2 separate regions of the Homo sapiens genome follow, and region 1 is linked to region 2. Evidence: fine-mapped expression QTL. Tissue or cell type: whole blood. Region 2 holds a variant in brackets; the other region holds the start of a gene. All regions are shown on one strand. Distances are from middle to middle.

Evidence for each region. PIP is the estimated chance that this variant, and not a neighbour inherited with it, causes the effect.
Region 1: it holds the start of OSCP1, and the variant in region 2 is fine-mapped to the expression of OSCP1 in whole blood (TOPMed, PIP above 0.99). The same link has a PIP of 0.9 or more in sun-exposed skin.

What each region holds. Positions count from the first base shown.
Region 1 is chr1:36,446,531-36,454,632 of GRCh38, forward strand. OSCP1 (organic solute carrier partner 1) reads right to left here and starts at 3,921. Exons shown (of 10, transcript NM_145047.5): 1 at 3,728-3,921. The coding sequence starts at 3,839. LOC107984940 (a long non-coding RNA gene) reads left to right here. Exons shown (of 3, transcript XR_001737976.2): 3 at 2,928-3,035. RefSeq lists an enhancer at 1-132 and a silencer at 4,047-4,316.
Region 2 is chr1:36,409,341-36,417,442 of GRCh38, forward strand. No RefSeq gene overlaps it. Among named protein-coding and RNA genes, the nearest start is that of SNORA63C, 5.2 kb to the right of the region's middle. The variant T/C (reference allele first, on the strand shown) is at 4,291.

The sequences.
Region 1 (8,102 bases), 37 kb after region 2:
TGCTGTGTGCTCCCCTACTCCTTTCCTCCTGAGAATACAGGGAAGAGAAACACCCTCTTTTTCTATTATTTCTCCAGATGACTTATTTGTGACAACTCCACTTTAGTTCTGTTTTGAGTGGGGGCAGGCCCAAGGCTATTCAGAGCTAGTCGTTAAACTGGAACTAGAAAAATAAAACCAGAGTCTCACTGCCCTTTGGTTGCTTGTGCTACACTGTGATTGGCATGTCTTGGAAAAATCACTTTGTGGCCACATGCCTCAGTTTCCTCTCCTGTAAAATGAGGAATGTAAGCAAAAGATAATAAGGTCTTATTTATAAATATTTTTAAGAGGCAAAGGTAGCTTTTATTATTCTCGCCATTGCTTTAAACAGGAGACAACATTCAATATGCAACACTCGATAGTTGCCTCATAGAGAGAGCACTTCCTTTCTGTTGAATGCTAAACTAGAGGCTGCGTTGTGGGGGAAGCTGCAACATCTGCCTTGGCCTTGTGGGAACAGGGATGGCCTCCAGGAGACCAATTAGTCGTATAAGATAATGAAAACATCTAGAAGAAATATGATTTCCACTCAAAGCTTCGAAGAGGACTAGTTTACCAAGTCTAGTGTTTTATAGGCTCCTGTGTACAGGGATCTGTTACAGGGGCTCTCGCTCCTGTGGCCACAACAACTTTAAATGGTGGAATAGGTGGAAGACATGAGTATTTCTCAGCCCGTTGAATCCTATGCTCTCTACCCTGTTTTCTCACTCTATCTTCTACAGATCTCCAACAGCCAACTATTTTGTCATTTATTTGATAAAATCAGTGGGTATATTGGATATATATTTTTCAGACTCCTCCCTCTCCTCCTGACCTACCAACCCCCACTAAGATTCTGATATAGTCCCCAAGGTATGGCAGCAGAGTATAGTGGTTATAGTAAGGGGACTAAGTGGTTATAGTAAGGGGACATTGGCTGAGTATGAGGACATTGGTTATATGAGGGGACATTGGTTATAGTAAGGGGACATTGGCTGAGTATGAACTTTGGAGCCTGATGCCTTGGGCTCAAATCCTTTACTTTTCCTCCTACCAGCCATGTAACTCTGGGCAAATTAGTCTTAGTTTCTCCATCTGTAAAATGGGGATAGTAATATTACCTATGTGTTACAATAGTTGGGAGGATTAAGGTGTTTAAGAGGAGCCCTTGGTACAAAGTAAGTGCTTGATTTTTCATTGTTTTATTGTTGATTGCTGTCACTAGAATCAGTTACTGGAGTGGACTGATCAATAGCCCTACCTCCAGTGAATGTCCAGAAGGGCTGCATCAGGCTCCATATAGTATCTCACATAGTGTTTGACACTCAGTCAAAATCTGTGGAATGAATGAGTGTGCGAATGTAAATTACTAAAGATGGCCGAAACTCCCAAAACCATATTTAGCAAAAGCAGAAAAAAGGCTATAACTCCTAAAGGTAAAGCTGTCCTCTAGTATTCCAAGGGCCTTGTCCAGACCTCCTCTTGAAAGATACCTATTACTCATTGTGTTAAACATATTAAATACATTATTTCATTCAATCCTTACAACTTTGCTTTAACATATATGTATTATTACCATTTTATGGAGAAACAGGTTTATAGAGGTTACACCCAAAGGGCATGCAATTAGTTAAATGGTAAAGCTGGAATTGGGATCCAGGTCTGTAAGACTCTAGAGAGTATGTTCTTAATTGCTAATTTACACTATCTTCCAAGATGCAGACTACCTACCAGTCTGAGGACTCCAGCATGTCACCTCATTGGTGCCACTAGCCTGAATGAAATCAGATCACACAGGCACCAAGGAAAACAGAACCCTCTCAAAGGAAAAATGACAATGCTATATAAAACTGCCAATTTAGATAATCAGTTCAAAAAACATTTTGTGATCACTAATTTATTCTGGTCTAGGAATTATGGTAGGTGCTGGAGTACAAAGATGAATAAGACAATCAAGCGGGAGATAGACATATACACAGATCATTTCAGTATAGCATGGCCAGTGGTAAGGTACTGAGGAGCAGGCATGGGGTGCTATGGGAGCACAGGCTGCTATGAGAGCATGCACAGGCCCTTTCTGCATATGGGGAGGATTCCTGAAGGAGATGATTCTTAAGCCGAATAATGCAGGATTGAAGGGGAAGAATGTAGGGATGGGAATTACTAGCACAGAAATACGAACAAACATGGTTTAAGCGGAGATCTATGAGCAGTTTGGTATTATTGGGAAACAGGAGGCAGGCAGTGGTGGAAGAAGGGACTGCAGAGGAAGACAGAGATCAGATAAGGAAGGGCCCTGAAATGGCCTGTGCAAGGACTTGGTCTTAACCCAGATGGCAGTGGAAAGCTGACAAAGGGTTTTAGGCAGGGGCAAGTTTGGACAGATACACATTTTAGAAAGCTCATTGGCGGCAATGTGCAGAATGAATGGAGGGGGTATGTTATAGGGAGTTATTTTTAGCTCTTTATGCATGGACTTGCACTCAGTCACACACACACAATAGTTAATATCTGAATATGTATGCTTAGCATCTGAATATGTATGTTGAACATCAATTGAGCATACAAAGATTAATGGAGAGAATGTTTTAATTGGCGGCCATGTCAATTGCCTTTTCAACTTTTCCTCCTCCACTTTGAAATATAATATTTCCTTCATACTTAATCCTAGGAAATTTGGTATAAGCAAGTTGTTTGCCGAGAAGGGAGGAAAAGAGGAAAAGGAACAGAGTGGCAGAGTGTTCTGAGTCGTCATTTTTCTGGGGATTAGTGTGGTGTCCATGGGAGGCAGATTTTGCATTTTCGAAGCTCTCATATAATTATTTTCACAATTGTATTCCCCTCCAACACTTGTGAGGAGATTTATAACTTTCTTATTTTTTTCATATTTATCTATATTATTTTAGAACACCAAATTTCTAGAAATACTTCTGAGATGAGTAAGACCAATCTCCAGCTTATGTGGGAAGATACTACCATAAAGAAATTAAGAATCTGAACCTGGGCTGGACGCGGTGGCTCACGCCTATAATCCCAGCACTTTGGGAGGCCGAGGGGGGCAGATCGTTTGAGTCCAGGAATTGAAGACCAGCCTGGGAAACATGGTGAAACCCCATCTCTACTAAAAATACAAAAATTAGCTGGGTGTGGTGGTGCATGCCTGTAATCCCAGCTACTTGGGAGGCTGAGGCACGAGAATCGCTGGAACCCAGGAGGCAGAGGTTGCAGTGAGCCGAGATCGTGCCACACACTCCAGCCTGGGCGACAGAGCGAGACCCTGTCTCAAAAAAAAAAAAAAAAAAAAAAAAAAAAAAAAATCAGAACCTGTTCCTTGGGGGTAAAGAGGATGCTTGGACTAGCAAGGGGTATGATACTAGATGGTGGGCAGCTGGGACTCCTACATTTGGAAGGCACTGATTGACAAGAGAGACTGGGAAATCACCTCTCCCATTTGAAGAGATGGGGAAATTAGGGAGGTCAGGCACCCTAGTGTCCACTGGGAGTATTAAGTTCCTCTGCTGTGAAAAAAGCTTTTGGGGGGATTTGACTCCCGAGGGGCTCCAAATGGATGTGGCTTGTAAGAAAGGTCCCTGGTTATAAGAGTGAAGTGTGTAGGGGTGCGGGTCTGGCTGTGGGTGTTAGGGCGATGATGAGAGGGCCGGGCTGCTGGCTGCGGGTCTGGCTGAGCGGGCCGGGGGCCTCTCACCTTTGCGGGCCTTGTCTCCCGGGATGTTCTGGGCCCGCAGCCGTTGGTCGAGGATGTAAAGCATCTCCCCGCCCAAGTTCAAGAAGAGCAGCGGTAGCGTCCGCACCGACATGGTGCTGGAAACGAGCTGGACTGGTGAAGAGCCCCGGGGTTCGGTAGCCAGTGGCCTGAAGGCCAGGCCGCAGCGTCCCAATAGTCCGGTTGCTGGGGCAACGCCGTGACGGGAAGAGCGAGCCAATCAGAAGGCGGTTTGGTGGGAGGTGCCCTGAAGACGGGAGCTAATTGGTCTGGGTGGTGGACCGTCCCGGGGGGATTGGTCCGAGCCAGAGGCCGGCGCGGCGTTGGGCGCGGCTGGGGAGCTGTGCTTCTGAGAGTAGGTTTCCCTCGAAAGGGCGAGGGCCGGGCCAGGGCTGGGGGTGGTCTCGACACAGCCAGCCCGGCGCTTGGGACCCCGGCCGCTGGCGCGGGGCCTCAGGTTCCTATAACAGAGGAAAGCCCAGGCAGAACGGCATTAGAGCAGGCTCGGGTCAGACGGACCTGGGTTGGAATCACGGCTCGTGATTTCTTGCTGTGTGACTTCGGGCAGGGTTTGAGCCTTGGCTTCCTCTTACGTAACATGGAGCTGGCACTCACATCACAGGGCGGCTGAGAGGAATCAGTCAGATCATGGAAAGGCCCCGAAAGCACTCAATAAAAATGGTAACTGACTTTTCTTTTAGACGAGGGAAGGATCAGAAGTCCTGAGTCGTTTGCATCGCCTCCCAAAAGTTTACTTGAAGTGAAGCCCCTCCTGGTTTCATACTCCATGAAGCAAACCAGTCCCGTCCGTCCCCGTGTGTCCAGTTCCCAGAGGATGCGCCTGGGGGCTCTGGGAAGTTCCCTCCTCGACGCTGTTCCGAAGGCCTCCCAACCATTTCTTTTTTCTTTTTTTTTTTTTTTTGAGACGGATTTTGCCCTTGTCGCTCAGGCTGGAGTGCAGTGGCGCCATCTCGGCTCATTGCAACTTCCGCCTTCAGGGTTCAAGCGATTCTCCTGCCTCAGCCTCCCGAGTAGCTGGGATTACAGGCGCCCGCCACCATGCCCGGCTAATTTTTGTATTTTTAGTAGAGACGGGGTTTCACCATGTTGGCCAGGCTGGTCTGGAACTCCTGACCTCAGGTGATCTGCCCGCCTGGGCCTCCCAAAGTGCTGAGATTACAGGCGTGAGCTATCACGCCCGGCCCCAACCATTTCTCTTTGAGGGCAGCGACTCCCTTCCTTACCTCCATCTTAAGCTCCAGGATTACTTTTTGCCATCTGCTGTATATTTTTACTCTGATGAACAACCATTTCTGTAAATTTCAGTACTTCCAAAACCTACTAATTATCTTTCCCTCCAGCTACTCAAACTTGAAACTTGGGCCTTGGCTTCCAAATCTGTTTCCCAGGGTCTTTTATCAGTCATCATATTATGCTTTTTCCTCCAACACCTTTCTTACATTCATCCCTTCATTTGTTTTTCTGTCTGCATTGCTATGTTCCTCTGTATCACTGTTCTTTTCTCTCTTCTACCTTGCACTGGCTGCTAAGCTAAATGTCAGAAGACATCACTTTTTTTTTTTTGAGATGGAGTTTCACTCTTGTCGCGCAGGCTGGTGTGCAATGGCACGATCTCGGCTTACTGCAACCTCCGCCTCCTGGTTTCAAGCGATTCTTCTGCCTCAGCCTCCTGAGTAAGCTGGGATTACAGGCATGGACCAGGGCACCATGCCCGGCTAATTTTGTATTTTTAGTAGAGATGGGGTTTCACCATGTTGGCCAGGCTGGTCTCGAACTCCTGACCTCAGGTGATCTGCCCGCCTCGGCCTCCCAAAGTGTTGGGATTACAGGCATGAGCCACTGCGCCCGGCCAGCATCACTGTCAACATGACACATCCCTTCAGTGGTTTCCTACTCTTTGCCAGATCACAGTCTAGATGCCTTGGCATGGCATTCCAGGCTCTCCACAGGCTCCAGCTACCTTTTTTTTTTTTTTTTTTTTAAAGAGATAGGGGTCTTACTTTGTTGCCCAAGGTTGGAATGCAGTGGCACCCTGGTGGCTCACTGCAGCCTAGAACTCCTAGCCTCAAGTGATTCTTCCACCTCAGACTCCTTAGTTGTTGGGATTTCAGGTGAGAGCCACCATACCCGGCCAACTACCTTTTTAAAGCCATCTCCTGCACCTGGCCACCTCCTCTCCCCCAGTCCAGTTGAACTTGTCAGCAGGCTGCCTCTTCCTCATTACCACACCACTGAAAAGTCTTGTCCTGCCATAACTGAGCCCAAGTCCTTCCCATATTAACATTCTCCTTCCATCCCTGCTAGTCTGTTTTCCTTCCTTTCCTTCCCAGTGAAGTGTTTTGAACGAGTTGACAACACTCACAACTGGAACCTCCTTAACATCCTCACTCCCCACCTCATTGCAACTGGTATTATGCTCCCTGAACCCCACTGAAACTGCTTCACCATGAATACTTTTTGGTCCTTCCCTTAACTGATATCTCAGCATCAGGACTATACAGTATCCCATGGCTGGCAGCCCAAGGCTTTGTTTAATTTGGTTATTTTGCCTGCTCTGTGCTCTGTTTTAAAAGGGAATACAGGCCAGGCGCAGTGGCTCACACCTGTAATCCCTGCACTTTGGGAGGCCAAGGCCAGCAGATCACTTGAGGTCAGGAGTTCAAGACAGGAGTTCAACACCAGCCTGGCCAACATGGTGAAACCCCATCTCTACTTCGCTGGGTGTGGTGGCACACACCTGTAATCCCAGCTACTGTGGACGCTGAGGCAGGAGAATCGCTTGAACCTGGGACGGGGAGGTTGCAGTGAGCCAAGATCACACCACTGCACTCTAGCCTGGGGGACAGAGCAAAAACTCTGTCTCAAAAAAATTAAAATAAATAAATAAGAGGGAATACAACTAGGATAGGAATGTAATAAACACCTTAGCATCATTACTTCATGTTAGGCCTTCATGCATTTTTGTTACCTGCCTTGCTCCCAAAAGCATTTGAGTTTGCTGTAGTGTACTCTTCCCTTAGCTTCTCAGACCTTTTTCTTGGTCCCTAAGCAGTGTGGTATAGTGAACAGGACATAGGCTCTGGAGTCAAGACAGAGCCAGCTTTGAATCCTAGACCTTTCTCTTCCCAGCTATATGAATTTGGACAAGTTACCTAACCTCTCTGAGTCTCAGTTCTCTCATGACTCTCTCATCTCTCATGGCTAAAATGAGGATAATTAGCCAATGTGCAGAGTAAAGGTGGCTGTGAATATTAGATAATGTGCCTAAGGAAGCAGTTAAAACAATGCCTTTTGACCGGATGCAGTTGCTCGCGCCTGTAATCCCAGCACTCTGGGAAACCAAGGCATTTGGGAGGGCAAGGATTGCTTGAGGCCAAGAGTTTGAGTAACCTGGGCAACATAGTGAGACCCTCTCTACAAAAAATAAAAAAATTAGCTAAGCGCAGTGGCTTACACTTATAGTCCTAGCTACTTAGGAGGCAGAGGCAAGAGGATTGCTTGAGCCCAAGAATTTGAAGTTAGTGAATTATGATCAGGCTACTGCACTCCAGTTGGGGCAACAGAGCAAGATCCTGTCTCTAAAAAAACAACCAGCCAAACCAACCAACCAACCAACGAAAAACACACAAATGCCTTTGCAGTAGGGCCTGATCCATTAAAATGTGTTCCTTTTTCTTTCCTTCCCCTTGGCTAGCCCCCTTAACTGTTAGTACCTGGCCCTCTGACACACTACCTCTAAGTAGCCGTGGCCACTTGGAAGTCCTGGCCCATTAAAGGCCTTCCCTACAATTCCTGGAAGTGATATCTGAATAGTGGATCTTCAGTTCTGAGCCTCTCATTTCTGCTTCTGCAGACACCCAGGCTCTGTTCTACCCCTACTTCACCTTCTCCTCCAGCTCAGCTGCTCCTTCTGACTTAGGCTAAGCTCTCAGGGATCATCCTTCCCATCCAGACATGGTCCTTTTTTCTTATACACTCCATCCCTGGGCAGTTTCACTTATGCCCATGGGCTCAATCACCCAACAACTCGCAAACCTCTCTAGTCCAGACCTCTCTACTGAGTCCTAGATCTAAACTTCCAACTGCTCTTTGGATAGCACTTTAGCACACCTTTCTCCCTTTTTGGCTTTCCTCAGTGGCTTCCCTTCCCAGAGTGAAGTCCAGTGTATTTCTCCAGTGTTATGGGCCGAATGTGTCCCCGACCAAATTCATATGTCGAAGCCCTAACTCCAATGTTACAGTATTTAGAGATGGGGCTTCTCAGAGTTAACTAGGGTTACATAAGGTCGTGAGTACGGCCCTCATGATGGGATTAGTGGCCTTGTAAGAGTGAGCT
Region 2 (8,102 bases):
GTGTAGTGGCACGATCTCGGCTCACTGAAACCTCTGCCTTCTGGGTTTAAGCAATTCTCCTGCCTCAGCCTCCCGAGTAGCTGGGATTACAAGCACCCGCCACTGTGCCTGGCTAATTTTGTATTTTTAGTAGAGATGGAGTTTCACCATCTTGGCCAGACTGGTCTTGAACTCCTGAACTCGTGATCCACCCACCTCAGCCTCCCAAAGTGCTGGGATTACAGGCATGAACAACCGTGCCCAGCCTCTCTGTTCTCTTTAGGTGAGCTCTGTTGTGGTTCTGTTTCCAATTGTCAGAGGATCACAAAATCCTGAGAGTTAGGGTCGACTCCCAGGTCACCTGCTCCAATTTACCACCCAGTACCAACATACCCTTTATGACATTCTGTGATGCTCCCCCCTAACCTCTATCTGAACCACTCCAGTGACAGCAACTCGCTTCTTTGCCAGCTGATCTACTTCACGGTCAGGAAGCTTTTGGTAACTTCTACCCATGTGCTTCCAGTTTTTTAAAACCTTTTTTTTTTTTGTATTTTTATTGAATTTACAAAAATGTCTGTCCAGTTATGACAGTAAAATGGGAAACCACAATGACAAACGGTGGCATGAAAAACAACACACACCCATCAGGAATTATATCAAACACTTTCCTTTTTATTCATTCAGAAGGGAATCCAATGCACAAATGTCAAATGTGAGCATTGTCATTTTTTTTGTTGTTCTAAGAAGGGAGAAAGACACTTATTCTGGCAGCTGCTTCTAGTTCTTTTCTATGGAAAACTGTCCTATTTTGTATTATATTTAATTAATAAATTTTCAAGGTTTTTTTTTTTTTTTTTTTTTTTTTTTTTTTTGAGATGGAGTCTCATTCTGTCACCCAGGCTACAGTGCAGTGGCACAATCTTGGCTTACTGCAACCTCCACTTCCTGGGTTCAAGCAATCCTCCTGCCTCAGCCTCCCCAGTAGCTGGGATTACAGGTGTATGCCACCACACTTGGCTAATTTTTGTGTTTTTAGTAGAGATGGGGTTTCATCATGTTGGCTAGGCTGGTCTTGAACTCCTGACCTCAGGTGATCCGCCTGCTTCAGCCTCCCAAAGTGCTGGGATTCCAGGCATGAACCACCATGCCTGACCTCTTCATGCCTTTTGAAAGTGAAGTAAATGTACTAAATCAATGAAAATGACTGCATTTTCAGACACCGGAGTGTGAGGTGATGTGGACCATCCATGGAAAGAGAGCCTGCAGCACAGGTGGGCATGGGATGACAACACAGAGGTTAAGGGTTGAAGGTAGTGACATTTTTGAAAAATAAGTGATGCAGAATAACTCTCAGAAGGGGTGTAAACCCTGCCGGGCACATCAGACATTGGGATCAGCAATGGGATGAGAATAAGGAATAGGCTGAGGATGAGAAATGGAGTGAGAGTGAGAGGTAAGGCGAAGGAGTGGGAAAGGAATGGGAAAGACAGCCAAGGATGAAATAATGATCCTCTGCCATTGACTTGGCTATTTTGACAGACTTTATAAAATGGCTGTGTTGAACTCTGTATCATACAGAGCAGTCCTCAATCAGAAGGCACTGAGGGAGAGAGAGGATGTATGGTCAGAAAGTGATGTGATTAGACCGGGCGCAGTGGCTCACGCCTGTAATCCCAGCACTTTGGGAGGCCGAGGCAGGTGGATCACGAGGTCAGGAGATTGAGACCATCCAGATTAACACGGTGAAACCCCCTCTCTACTAAAAATACAAAAAATCAGCCGGGTGTGGTGGCGGGCGCCTGTAGTCCCAGCTACTCAGGAGGCTGAGGCAGGAGAATGGCGTGAACCTGGGAGGTGGAGCTTGCAGTGAGCCGAGATCGCGCCACTGCACTCCAGCCTGGGCGACAGAGTGAGACTGCTTCTCAAAAAAAAAAAAAAAAAAAAGAAAGTGTTGTGATTAGAGCCACAGAGGTGAACGGTTGAGAGAGTTTTAGGAAGAAAAGGGTGTTTAGCAGGGCCAAGAGCTTTCAAAAAGCCAAGAAGCCAAGCGTGGTGACTTATGCCTATAATCCCAGCACTTTGGAAGGCCTAGGCGGGAGGATCACTTGAGCCCAGGAGTTTGGAGGCTCAGTGAGCTATGATTGTGCCATTGCACTCCAGCCTGAGCAACAGAGTGAGACCCTGTTTCAAAAACAAAACAGAAAACCAAAAAGCCAAGGAGCATGGTGATGAGAAAAGGCTATTGGATCTATTAATAGCAATGTTGGCACCTGGAGACCTGAGAGTTGAGATCTGTGCAGTGCAGTGCTGGCCCCATAGCCGAGAAGCTGATGAGTACGTGGTGAGGAACAGAGGAGAATGGCTAGAACAATGAAGATGGAGAGAAGCAGCCCCTGGAGAAGTAGGGGCCGAAGGAGTACCTGTGTTACCAGTTGAGGGTAACCAGTACTGGTTGAGGGTAACAGGTTGAGGTAACCTGACTGAATTGTCCAGGTTCTTGGCATTTTGAACAAAGAATTGGACAAAATGCACAAAGAAAGCAACGAGAGAAGAAGCAAAACAGAAGTACAGATTTATTGAAACAAAAGTACACTCCACAGAGTGGGAGTAGGCTCGAGCAAGCAGCAAGAGCCCTGGTTACAGAATTTTCTGGGGTTTAAATATGCTCTAGAGGTTTCCCATTGGTTACTTGGTTACACCCTATGTAAATGAAACCTGCCCCACGACCAGTCAGATTGGTTGTGGGAGGGGACCAATCAGAGGTACTTTCCATTTTTCATCTGTGAGGCAGTGGAAAGGGGGGGTTGCAAAGGGAGTAGCTTCTGATCCTTTCCTTACTTGGGCGTGGAGAGGTGGGGTTTTCGTTTTGATTCAGTTCTAGGAAGGCAGCGCAAATTGGCCTTAGGTTCTTGTCTCCTGCCTCCTGCCTCAGCTGGGCACGTTTGTACAGGAGGAGGAGAGCCTTAGCAGCCACTCAGATAAACACCTGAAGCAGAATATACTTGAGGTAGGGAGGAAAGATGAGGGACACATGCAATATTAATCAATATAAAACAAATATTAGCTTCTTGTCAGTTGTAACCTAAGCTGAGAGGTCTTGAGGATATCTAGAAAACTGGGGTCAAATGTCCTTTGCTGACACGGGGCCCCCTGCTGGGAAACCTGCTGGCCTCAGTGTTTCAAAAGGAAGTGAGGGAGCTCTATAAAGAAAATGAAGGACACAGTGATCTGAGGTGATTGTGCACATCTAGGCCCTGCGGCCTGCCTCTTGCACTGCTGGCACTGCTGGCACTGCTGGCACTGCTGGTGGTGTGTGGCTCCATCGGGCCTAATGCAATTGAGGTTTTTTTTTTTTTTTTTTTTGAGACAGAGTCTCGCTCTGTCCCCCAGGCTGGAGTGTAGTGGTACCATCTCAGCTCACTGCAAACTCTGCCTCCCGGGTTCAAGCGATTCTCCTGCCTAAGCCTCCGCTTCCCAAGTAGCTAGGATTATAGGCATGTTCCATCACACCTGGCTGATTTTTGTATTTTTAGTAGAGACAGAGTTTCACCATGTTGGCCACGCTGGTCTCGAACTCCTGACCTCAGGTGATCCACCTGCCTTGGCCTCTCAAAGTGCTGGGATTACAGGCGTGAGCCACCACACCTGGCCATGCAGTTGAGTTTTCATGCTGTCTTAGGAACTAACAGAGAAGGTAATGTTATTTTTGTCAGCAGAGGCACCACTGGCCAGAAACAAAAAGAATCTAGAATGTACACATGTATGGAGGTGGTGGTGGTGAAGTGTTAAGGTAATCAAATAATCAAAAACAATTTCCATTGACCCTTGGAATGAATCTTGACATTCTCACTTGCAAAGGGGTAAGTTATGATCTGAGAATTTACTTCACACCAAATCAGGAAGCTATGCAGGGAAGATTCAATGTGGAGGTTTCCTTATCCCAAGCCTGTCCTGTAATTCTCTCTACTGTCACCTGTCCAGGAATTTAGCAGCTGAAAAGGAGTTATCCAAGGCATAATTTGGAGAGAATAAGAGGTAGGTAGAGGTAGTATTAGTTTTCTGATTTTAATTTTGGTCTTTAAGATTAGGTATTATGCTAAATACATATTTTCTAAAATTTGCATTTCTCTTTCTATGGTTTCCTGTAGCTTGAGATGGTTCCAAAATGGACAGTGTGGCTCTATACTGAATGTAATCCAGAGTGACAGACCAGATGGTTATAGACTAGATGGATGTGGATGAGGGAATCTGATCCACTTTAGATCTGGGCATCTCCAGGATCTGGTTATGCTGAAGCCTGTTTCTCTC[T/C]TATTGGGATATCTGAGGGAAGAATTTAAAAATTCTTAGAAGGGCTGGGTGCAGTTGCTGACGCCTGTAATCCCAGCACTTTGGGAGGCCGAGGCAGGTGGATCACCTGAGGTCAGGAGTTCGAGACCAGCCTGGCCAACATGACAAAACCCTATATCTACTAAGAAAATACAAAAATTAGCCAGGCATGGTGGTGCATGCCTGTAATCTCAGCTACTTGGGAGGCTGAGGCAGGAGAATTGCTTAAACCCAGGAGGTGGAGGTTGCAGTGAGCTGAGATTGTGCCACTGCACTCCATCCTGGGCGACACAGCAAGACTCTGTCTAAAAACAAAAAATTGTTAGAAGGCTGGGCGTGGTGGCTCACGCCTGTAATCCCAGCACCTTTGGAGGCTGAGGCAGGAGAATCGCTTGAGACCAGGAGTTTGAGATCAGCGTGGGCAACATAGTGAGACCAGGTGTGATGGCACGTGCCTGTAGTCCCAGCTACTTGGGAGGCTGAAGTGGGAGGATCGCTTGAGGAGGTCGAGGCTGCAGGGAGCTGTGATTGTGCCACTACACTCCAGCCTGGGTGACAGAATGAGACCTTGTTTCAAAAATAAATAAAAATTGTTAGATACTCACGGGGACTACATGGTGAAATGGGCCCATAGACTGTTCTTTTGGATAAACGTAGACATTGATCCTTCTGCTGTTAAAGCTTGAAACTTGTATTTGTTTTATCTAAGTTCCTTTCTCAGGAAAGGACCTTCAGGCCCCTAAAAAATGGGATCAGAGAACTGAAACTTACCAGATGGGGGCACCAGATGCCCCCTTGCCCCTCCCTAGTTCTTATTTTGTTACACATTGTTACATTTCTTCCTTGCTATGTAAACCCCTAGCTTTAGTCGATCAGGGAGATGGATTTGAGACTGAGCTCCCATCTTCTCTGCAGCACCTGATTAAAGCCTTCTTCCTTGAAAATACTTATCTCAGAGATTGGCTTTCTGTGCGGTGAGCAGCAGGACCTAGACCAAACGCCTGGTGTTTCGGGAACAATGGGATGACTTTCTTCTTAGAATTCAGAGATAAATACATTTTCCTTCTTTTTTCTTCCTCCTTTGCTCTGGATTTTTATTACTTCTTTCTTCTGGGAGCCATTAAAGTCCTTTGGTTTTTGGCTTTTCTGCAGCATTGCTTTACTTAATCAACAGGGCATTCTAACACCCTAAGAACAAGAGTGGGGTGGTTTGAAACTTAGTTGAGAAGAGGCTACAGTCACAGAAGAGCTGAAAGAGAGCAGATATACCCCAAAGCAGCGGGGGGAGGGCAGCCTGGGTAAGACTCCCATTCTCAGGTCCCACCTGGGGCAGGGCCCAGGAAGCTATAAACTCAGGAACTTATCTGTGCAAGCTGAGTTTGAATTCTTTTTCTTTTTTAATAGATGAGGGACCCGAGGCTTGGTGAGGGTTAGTGGTCTAAGATGACATGGTGAATTGGGGGCGGGGATGGGGCCAGAGTGCAGTGTTGTGATTCTGACCATATGCCTTCCCCTTAAGTTCACTGGGCATTGGTGGATTACATGCTTATGCCCCTTTGCCATGGTTTTAAATGAATATGTGTGCTTTTAGTACTTTGTCCACATTTTAGGCAGAAAATAAAATCTTTTTAGAATCTTTATTTATTTTTATTGAGATGGGGTCTCATTCTGTCACCCAGGCTAGAGTACAGTGGCACAGTCATGGCTCACTGCAGCCTCGACCTCCTACTTTTTATCTACTTTACCTCCTACTGACTCCCATGCTTTCTCTGGAAGTCCTGAACCACCATGCAAATAAACTTGTTTTTCTTTTTTTTTTTTTGAGACGGAGTCTTGCTCTGTCGCCTAGGCTGGAGTGCAGTGGCGCGATCTCGGCTCACTGCAAGCTCCGCCTCCCAGGTTCACGCCATTCTCCTGCCTCAGTCTCCTGAGTAGCTGGGACTACAGGCACCCGCCACCACACCCAGCTAATTTTTTGTATTTGTAGTAGAGACGGGGTTTCACCGCGTTAGCCAGATGGTCTCGATCTCCTGACCTTGTGATCCGCCCACCTCGGCCTCCCGAAGTGCTGGGATTACAGGCGTCAGTCACTGTGCCCGGCCATAAACTTGTTTTTCTTAATATCTGTGCAAGTCTAGAGACATGAAACTCACAGATTGCCTCATCATGGAGCTGTCATACCAGAGATCTGCATCTTGTTTATTTACTGATAGGACAGATACGTTTGAAATCACCAGCATCGCTCTGGGATAGGTGGAGGGAGGAGGCTGCGGCTGCTTCTCGGCACCTCACGGCCCACCTCCAAGGCCCTGGGACACACTCAGAGCAGTGACATTCTGATATGTGACAGCAAGGTGGGAGCCGGACTCAAAACAGGTCAGAACCTTCCCATTCATCTGTCACCCAGTCAGGCCCCCCTGAATGGTGGCCAGATTGCTGAAAAGAGACTAAAACGAAAGGCACTTTGTACATCTGATGCAACAGGTGTTTTATAGCACAATATGCTTCTCCTCCCCAACAGACTTTTCGTGAGTATGTGGAGGGGGAGGGTGTCTTTATAGGTAAGGAAGTGTAACTTTAATGGGTAGGGAGCAATTAACATTTATTTGGTGATTTATATTCTTTTTTTTTTTTTTAATTGAGACAGAGTTTCGCTCTTGTTGCCCAGGCTGGAGTGCAATGGCATGATCTTGGCTCACTGCAACCTCTACCTCCTGGGTTCAAGCGATTCTCCTGCCTCAGCCTCCTGAGTAGCTGGGATTACAGGCATGCGCTACCAGGCCTGGCTAATTTTGTATTTTTAGTAGAGACAGGGTTTCTCTATGTTGGTCAGGCTGGTCTCGAACTCCTGACCTCAACTGATCTGCCCGCCTCGGCCTCCCAAAGTGCTGGGGATTACAGGCATGAGCCACCATGCCCAGCCCTTGGTGATTTACATTCTGTATCTAAACCCTTTGCCTTTGGAAAAGCCAAAGGGCAGCTTCCATTACATTCTAGAATGATGTTCACCTTGGTCCGTCCCAGGTGTGAGGGGATGGAGAGGTTCCTGTAGTTGGCCCAATCTCAGGCAATGTCCAGCTCAACTTAGTTTCTCTCCAGCCCTCTGCCATTCTGGATATTCCTTCCATAGGATTGAATGGGTCTGAACCTGCCAGTTACTCAGTCCTGGGAAGGAGCCTATGGCAGAGGGCTGCTGCGCCTTTCTGAAGCAGTAAGGGCAGCCCTGGCTGGAGACATTTTACATGGATTCCAGTGAGACTTGGCCTCCTGCTGCATCCTGCAAAGTCTGCTCCCGCCCAGGGAAGCGGCTCAGCTAGAATGCAGAAGGGAAAGGTGCATACCACACGTGCCTCCCATGCACCCAATCTAGGGTGCTGTTTGGTGACTCACGGTGATGCAGAGGAGACCGATGTCACAGTGCATCCTGCCGGGTATCTTTTTTTTTTTTGAGACATAATCTCGCTCTGTCACCCAGGCTGGAGTGCAGTGGCGCGATCTAGGCTCACTGGAAGCTCTGCCTACCAGGTTCATGCTATTCTCCTGCCTCAGCCTCCAGAGTAGCTGAGACTACAGGCATCTGCCACCATACCCAACTAATTTTTTTTGTATTTTTAGTAGAGATGGGGTTTCACTGTGTTAGCCAGGATGGTCTCGATCTTCTGATCTCGTGATCCGCCCACCTCAGCCTTCCAAAGTGCTGGGATTATAGGCCTGAGCCACTGTGCCCGGCCTATGCTGGGTGTCTTTAGAAGGCAAAGCACACTCAGGGGTAGAGGAAGACCCTGGGGGTAAGG